2 linked regions of the Homo sapiens genome follow. The protein of the gene in region 1 binds, or shares a complex with, the protein of each later gene. Each region holds a gene or a part of one and is shown on either strand. Other genes may lie near its edges. The genes, in order: YEATS2 and TADA3.

Region 1 (4,373 bases):
GCAATTCCCCTGCCTCAGCCTCCCGAGCAGCTGGGATTACAGGCCTGGGCAACAGACTGTGATTCTGTCTCAAAAAAAAAAAAAAAAAAGAAAGAAAAGAAAAGAAAAAGAAAAAATCTGCTTCACAAGTCTTGTTTTCTGTGAGAAAACTGCATCAACTCCCACCATCTACTGGGTATCACGACAGAAAACAGACTGAAAGCAGAGCAGGACCAAAGGCAGGGAGATAGGGAACAATCCAAGAACGTGGCAATGAACATTCAAATAAAAATCCGTAGTTGATGAGAAGAGGACAGGACCAACTATTTCTGAGAATCTATTCTAAGAAAATACAGGGTAATGTACATCGTATGTGGGCTACACTCAGAGATCTACAACCTAAATGTTAATTCTCTTCTTCCTATGGATTTTATAATAAAAAATAACCCACAGTAAAATATCATGCATCCACTGAATGAACATGAAGCATTTGAAACTGAGAAACATGTGGGGAGAACTCTGCATGCTGTATGTCAAGCTACCTATTTTTAATATCTAAAGAACTTTTGACAATCAATTAGGAAATAACAAAAGATGACAGAGAACAGGAAAAGAAATTCACAAACAGCCAATAAATGGGAAAAAAATGTTCAAACATACTAGTAATCAATAAATGAAAAAAACACAAGACACCATTTTTCATCGATTAAGTTTAGTTTTGGGGCAGATGGAAATGGGGCACTTTTTTTCTAATTTGCACTCATTAGTTTCATTTCCTCACATCCGGTTCCCACCTCCCACTTCCAGAACTATGGACAGGAAGACCAATGACCAAAACCAATAACCACCGTGTTGCCAAATTCAATTGACAATCTTAATGAACATCTCAGAAGCCCTGATAAAAGGACCAATTCAACATCTTCCAGAAACACCTCTTTTGGCTGCCATGATACATGCCATTTTGGTAGGAGCTTTTTCTCCTACCTCACTTGCTGTTTCCTGCGTCCTTTCCCCAACCTTCTTCCTCTACCAGACCTAGAGGTATTTGAGTGTCTGCGCCCTTTTCACTTCTCCACACTCTTTCCCCTCAGTGATCTCACACAGCACCATACCTTTGAATATCATCTACGTACAGATCACTCCCAATTTTTTTTTTTTTTAAGAGACGGGGTCCTTCCTGCCTTGTAGCCAAGGCTGGTCTAGAATATCTGGGCTCAAGCGACCCGCCTCGGTCTCTCAAAGTGCTGGGATTTCAGGTGTGAGCACCGCGCCCAGCCACTCCCAGATTTTTATCTCTAGCTCTAGCCTCTCTCCTCCTTGAGTTCCAGCCCTCTACATCCAACTGCCTCAACACACCGACTTCATAACTAACATGCATCTAAAATTTAATACATCTAAAATAGAATTCGTTTTTCCCACCTCAAATTTCTCTCTTCCATTCTTCATCTCAGTAAACAGCACCACCACCTACTCAGTTGCTCAAAACAAAAATCAAAAAAGCAAAGATTCCCACCATTCCCTCACCAATCCAAGTCTTGTTCATTCTACCTTAAAACATTTAAAAATCTGTTTATACTTCCCCATCTCCCTGCCACGGGCCTAGTCCAAGCTACTGCAAAGAGCACAGTAACTGACCTCGTAGGTTCCTCCCCAGCCCTCTTCCTCTACATAGCAGTCGGATCATGCTACTCGCCTTCTCAAAACCTTCAAAGGCTTCCCGGGAAAAACTAAACTCCTTATCAGGGCATCATCTGCCCTATCTTTTAAAGAGTATACACAAACAGGAATATACATCCAAGGGTAGTATCTCTAGATCGTAAAACTGCGGGCATTTTTCTCTGGCTTTGCTTGTATTTTTAAATTTTTCTACGCTGAATACCCTCTACTCATTAAGAAAGGGGAAATGATATTGCTGAATTCTATATAATATTATACCGCATTTTTTACATGTGAGCGAGAAAAGGGAATGGAAAACGTGGGTCAACTCTGTAACTGCTGAATGCTTAGATGAAAATACTAGCCAACATCAAACTAAAAAAAAATGATGTGTCAGGCCTGTAAGATTGCTGATGGCATTTCTCTTCCTCTGGTTTCTATTTCTTAACATAATCACATTCATGATGGAGAAAACCTCATTGTCTTCTGCAGTCTGGCCACAGCCCTTCAAGCCAGCCTTTCCTGCAGGAGTCCTCACTTTCCGAGGCTTCCACTCCGCCCCGCACTGCCCGCAGCTCCGGCGCGTTGGCCCCGGCCCCATCCCTGGACCCCCAAAGCCTCTCTGACCCCTCCCCTCCATCCCAGGGAGGCCCGGTGGGGATGGCGACAGGTTGGAGGGGCATTCCAGGATCCTTTCGGTAAACCCACGACTTTCTGGTGCTGGGGCCAAATCTTGCCTCCAAGGCCAAGAGCTTAACATCCTAAAAGCTCCGGCCGCTGTGGCTCGGGGTCCCGTATCCCCTCAGCGCAGCGCCCCGCTGAAGAGGAAGCCCCCAACTCACGTTCCAATTCCAGGCTCCCGCTTCTGCGGCTCCCCGGCCCGCACCTGGGATCCTCCCTGCCCTCCCCTCGGCCCCGGGGCCTCACCGGGTCCCGCTGCCGCGCTGCCTGCCGATGGGGGAGGGGCGCGCACGTGCCCGCGCCGCCCCCGCCCAAACAATGCCCCGGAGAGCGGGGCGCGCTCCCGGCCGGTCCCTTCCTGCGCCCGCCAACACTCACCCTTTCTCCGGGTCTCCGGCTGCAGCGCGGGCCCCGCCGGCCGCCGCGAGAGAGCACGGCGAGGTGAGAGAGCGGGCGAAGCCCCGCGGAGCTGCCCCGCCACAAGGCCCCAGCGACCCCCGCAACCTGCGGAAGCACACGGCGCGGTGGAGCCCGCCCGGCGCGTTCCGCCCCGCACGTCAGCAGCTGGGCGCGTCGGGGCGCGCGCGGCGGCGCGCGCGGCCTCGGGGCGGAGCTCCCAGGGATGAGGGCGGGGCGGGGCGGGGCGGGGCTGGTCCGGGCTGGGACCCCGGCCCGCGAGGGCACTTCCTGGGCAGTGTGGGCGTCGATTCTTGCAAAGGCACAGTCGTCCATCACTTTCCTGCCCCAGAAGATGGCGAATTTCAACCCCAAGTTTGACAGAATATTCATTCTGCCGGCGTGTATGAGCTTCCCTATTAATCACAATAGTGACTATGATGTTTGTGTGTGCCATCTTTGTGCCAACCCATGTGCTAAGTGCTGGGTATACAAAATAACAGTAGTTATTTCTAGCCCATTTTACAGATGAAGAAACTGAGGCAGGGAAGGCTTGAGACTTATCTCAGTCACACTAGCTAGTGACAATCCAAGTCCAGTTTTCCACCTAAATATCACTTGAGGCCAACATTCTCTTTCGTTGTAACTCTACCACCCTACCCAAGACCCTGTAATCTCTCTGCCCAAGACTATGAATAGCCTCCCAACTGGTCTTGGGGAACTTCTGTTCCCCTTCAATCCCTTCTCACTGTATAACGATTTACTACTGGAGCTGAGTGGTGGGTTTAGGAAGTTCACTTTTTTTTTTATACTTTACATACATGTTACCAAATTTTTAATGTATTTAATGTTTTTATCAACGCATAATAAATATAAGTGGTGTTTTGTTTTTTGTGTTTTTTTTTTTTTTTGAGATAGAGTCTCCCTCTGTTGCCAGGCTGGAGTGCAGTGGCATGATCTTGGCTCACTGCAGCCTCCGCCTCCCGGGTTCAAGCGATTCTCCTGCCTCAGCCTCCCAAGTAGCTGGGATTACAAGGCGCGCGCCACCACGCCTGGCTGATTTTTGTATTTTTAGTAGAGACAGGGTTTCACCATGTTGGCCAGGCTGCTCTCGAACTCCTGACCTTAGGTGATCCACCCGCCTCAGCCTCCCAAAGTGCTGGGATTACAGGCGTGAACCACCACCCCCAGGCTAATTTTGGTTTTTTTAGACAGGTCTCACTATCACCACAGCTAGTCTCACACTTCCGGGCTCGAGAGATCCTCCTGGCTGGGCACGGTGGCTCATGCCTGTAATCCCAGCACTTTGGGAGGCTGAGGCGGGCGGATCACCTGAGGTCAGGAGTTCAAGACCAACCTGGCCAACATGGTGAAACCCCGTCTCTACTAAAAATACAAAAATTAGCCAGGTGTATTTGGGCATGCCTGTAATCCTAACTACTTGGGAAGCTGAGGCAGGACAGTCACTTGAACTCGGGAGGTGGAGGTTGCAGTGAGCCATTGCACTCCAACATGGGCAACAAAAGTGAAACTCCATCTCAAAAAAAAAAAAAACTAAGAAAGGCTTCCTTGAACCTTAAGCTAAGACTCAAGAGATAATAGGAACTGGGGAGATAAACAAATTTCATGGAGAAGGGGGTGAGGTCACAGGTCAGGATGAG
Region 2 (3,810 bases), about 170 Mb from region 1:
ATGGAGTCTCACTTTGTCACCCAGGCTGTGGAGTGCAGTGGCACAATTTCGGCTTACTGCAAGCTCCGCCTCCTGGGTTCATGCCATTCTCCTGCCTCAGCCTCCCAAGTAGTTGGGACTACAGGCGCCTGCCACTATGCCCGGCTAATTTTTTTGTATTTTTAGTAGAGACGGGGTTTCATCATGTTAGCCAGGATGGTCTCGATCTCCTGACCTTGTGATCCGCCCGCCTCAGCCTCCCAAAGTGCTGGGATTACAGGCGTGAGCCACCGCGCCCGGCCTCCTTGCTCTTATTCTGTGGGACTGGAGTGACAATTACGCCCAGAGTGACCTTGTGCAGACTGCAAGGCCACCGTCAGCTGGGGTCCCTGTCTGATGATATGAGATAGAGACCTGCCCCTTCCCCTACCTTAGATAACCTGCAACATGTACCCAGACTGTTCCATGAGATAAACTCTTGTGTTTGAGCCAGAATAGAAAACTGAGTCTCAATGAGGTGAAAGAGTGTGAGGGTGTGTCTAAGGTCAACCAGCAGGTATAAAGACAGGGCCCCTGAAGCTAGGGTTTGAATCCTGGTGTGTGAGACCTCAAGTGAACAGTTCCCTTTTCTGAGCCTCAATCTTCTTATCTGTAACACAGCGTTAACCACTGTCCTGGCCTCCAGTGGGAGGATGTGTATAAAGCCCCTCCAACAGATGCTTAGCAAAAGTAATTGTGGAGTAAGGCTACCTTTGGGGAAAGTTGGAGAAAAACAGGGGCATGAGAGGGGCTTCTAGGATATAGTAATGTTTCATTTTGTAATCTCCAGGCTGGTAATACAAGCTCATTTGTGAAAACTGTACATTTATGATCTGTGCACTTTTCTATTAGGTGCACAAGTTATATATTATTCCCAATCTTTTGCTATATATTAGTCCAGGTTTTTACTTTTGCACCAACCTATTTTTGCACCAACCTAATAAATGTATGATAAATTCCGATAAAAAATAAGCATAACACATTAAAACACAAAGTAAATATGGTTCCTCTTTTGGGTTAGGCTGCTCACCTCCACCAGGGCCTGCAGGAGGCGCTGCGTCAGGGCACCAAAGGGGCATCCATCTTCCGGCTGTTCATGCTGGGCCTCAGACTTCTTCAGCAGGGCATCCACATCTAAGCGGGCACAGGAAAGGAGGGGAGGTGGGCTGAAGTTCTGGAATTCAAGTCCTGACCTGGGGTTGGCAGGGAGGTGAGAGGCCTACCTTTAGTGTCCAGTTCGGTCAGTGGCCCCATGAGGCCTTTCTTCTTGTCAGCCACAGCCGCTGCCCGGGCCCCATCCTTCTGCTCCTCCAGCAGGTCCTCCTGGGCCCAGCGCTGGGAGTAGTGCTTCCCCAGGGGTGGGATCTGTGGAAAAGATGGCACCCAACCCTGAGTGGGTAAGCACTGGCCAGCCATGCTTCATTCATTCATTCACTTACCTATCTTATATCTCTCTCAAGTCCCTAGTCCAAGGCCAAGCCCAGTGTCAGGTGTAGGTAAGAAAGTACAACGAAGATAAAACCTGTACTTCACACTCTAGTAAGGGAGACAGGTCCAAAAAGAACTAAGACACACACACAGAAGCCAATCTGAAATAATTCCCAAGATAGAAGGTGCAGAATACGTACACAGATTGTCTCAGGTCACAGCAATTGCCTCTCGAGAGAATTAGGAGCCTTCAGGTCACGGGTGACAGGGAATTACCTTTTGTATTGCTTGAATTTACTGCTGTCTGTATGAACTCTTTTTCAGATAAATTTTTAAGAAATCAGATAAGTGAAGTGAAAGAGAGAGATCAAAGTGTTGTGGCAGCACAAAGGAGAGACTGACTAACTTTCTGCTGGGGAATCTGAAAGAGTGCTTTGGTGGAGGTAACATGAGATCAGGGCCTTGAAGGGTGAGTCAAGTCTGTCAAGGAGACAAGAGGGAGAGAAGAGCTTGCCAGAGGCCCAGAGACCAGCGAGGAGGCTGTGGTGTCCTGGAATGAGGGCGAGATACTTGGTGGGACTGGTCAACACGGCAATGAAGAGGGATATGGCCGAGGAAAATGGAGAGGGGCACTGGAGCTGTGCCAGCAAGGACTGGGATGCGTGGACTTGATCCTGTAGATAACGGGAGGAAGAAAGGCCTGGATGCAGCGCCATGTCATGAGCACATCTGATCATGACAGCTCACCTATGGGAGGATTCTCCCTCAACATTTTTCTGTATTTTCTAAATTTTCTTTAATGGAGCATGTTTTATTTATTTTCATCATTAAAACATAGTTTTATATCTTCTTTTTTTTTTGAGACAGAGTCTTGCTCTGTCACCCAGGCTGGAGTGCAGTGGCACAATCTCAGCTCACTGCAAGCTCCGCCTCCCGGGTTCACGCCATTCTCCTGCCTTAGCCTCCCGAGCAGCTGGGACTACAGGCGCCCGCCACCACGCCCGGCTAATTTTTTCTATTTTTAGTAGAGACGGGGTTTCACCGTGTTAGCCAGGATGGTCTCAATCTCCTGACCTTGTGATCTGCCCGCCTCGGCCTCCCAAAGGGCTGGGATTACAGGCTTGAGCCACCGCACCCGGCTTTTTTTTTTTTAATGGATGGAATCTCCTTCTGTCACCCAGGCTGGAATACAGTGGCACGATCTTGGCTCATTGCAACCGATGCCTCCCCAGTTCAGGTGATTTTCCTGGCTCAGCCTCCCGAGTAGCCAGGATTACAGGTGCATGCCACCGTGCCAGGCTAATTTTTGTATTTTTAGTAGAGACGGCGTTTCACCATGTTGGTCAGGCTGGTCTTGAACTCCTGACCTCAGATGATCTGCCTGCCACAGCCTCCCAAAGTGTTGGGATTACAGGCGTGAGGTGACTTTTATATCTTTTTTTTTTTTTTGGAGACGGAGTCTTGCTCTGTTGCCCAGGCTGGAGTGCAGTGGCGTGATCTCGGCTCACTGCAACTTCCACCTCCCGGGTCCAAGAGATCCTCCTGACTCAGCCTCCCGAGTAGCTGGGACTACAGGCGCACACCGCCATGCCTGGCTAATTTTTTGTATTTTGGTAGAGATGGGGTTTCACCATGTTGCCCAGGCTGGTCTCAAATTCCTGAGCTCAAGCAATCTGCCCGCCCCGGCCTCCCAAAGTGCTAGGATTGCAGGCATAAGCCACTGCTCCCAGCCCAAGTTTTATATCTTAAAGAAAGAAGAAAGGTTCCTCCAGAGGCCTCGAAACAGGAAGAGAGTTAAGAGGCTGTTTGGATAGAAGTTGATGAAGGCTTGGACCAAAGCAGAGGGGATGGGGATAAAGGAACATGGGCAGACTTCACTTAAGTAGATGCTTGAGGGCGTGTTGACATTTGGCTGGGGTAGAGGGGAGGCAGTGCACGGAGAAAGCTGAGTTTGGGCCTAGGTGTCTGGAGGCACTGATGGAGCAGACAGCAGACTGGGCAGGGTTGGGGAAGGAAGATGATGCATGGCTTTGGTAGCTTTACTTCTCAGGCACCTCTGAACTCTCTTGTTCCGCATCATGTCTATCAAGGCCCAGAGTTTCTACCTTGTAATGCTCAGCCTCATCTTCTGGGGGCTTCAGTAACTCCTCAAGTGTGCGGACCTCCTCGCTGGTGATGTCAGCACAGTAGGGCTCCACTGAAGCCCAGAACCTGCAGGGAGAAGCAGATCCTGAGTGGGCGCCCCTGCCCCACCAGTGCCTCCACCACCAGAACCTTGAGGCCCCCTTCTATGTTCTCTAGCCCAGAACCTGTTGGGGGCATCATTTTTGGGGATCCGTGGCACGTCGATAGGGTCATCAGTGA

The links.
Region 2: YEATS2 (region 1) and TADA3 share a complex: the UniProt entries of both Homo sapiens proteins name them as parts of the ADA2A-containing complex.

What each region holds. Positions count from the first base shown.
Region 1 is NC_000003.12:183,696,315-183,700,687, reverse strand, and holds the start of YEATS2 (YEATS domain-containing protein 2), read right to left. Parts: upstream 2,892-4,373; 5' UTR 2,695-2,891; intron 2,611-2,694; exon of another isoform or gene 2,478-2,610; intron 1-2,477. UniProt on the Homo sapiens protein: Chromatin reader component of the ATAC complex, a complex with histone acetyltransferase activity on histones H3 and H4. YEATS2 specifically recognizes and binds histone H3 crotonylated at 'Lys-27' (H3K27cr).
Region 2 is NC_000003.12:9,785,958-9,789,767, forward strand, and holds part of TADA3 (transcriptional adapter 3), read right to left. Parts: coding exon 3,756-3,810; exon of another isoform or gene 3,658-3,755; coding exon 3,552-3,657; exon of another isoform or gene 1,848-3,551; coding exon of another isoform or gene 1,771-1,847; intron 1,384-1,770; coding exon 1,242-1,383; intron 1,153-1,241; coding exon 1,049-1,152; intron 1-1,048. UniProt on the Homo sapiens protein: Functions as a component of the PCAF complex. The PCAF complex is capable of efficiently acetylating histones in a nucleosomal context. The PCAF complex could be considered as the human version of the yeast SAGA complex.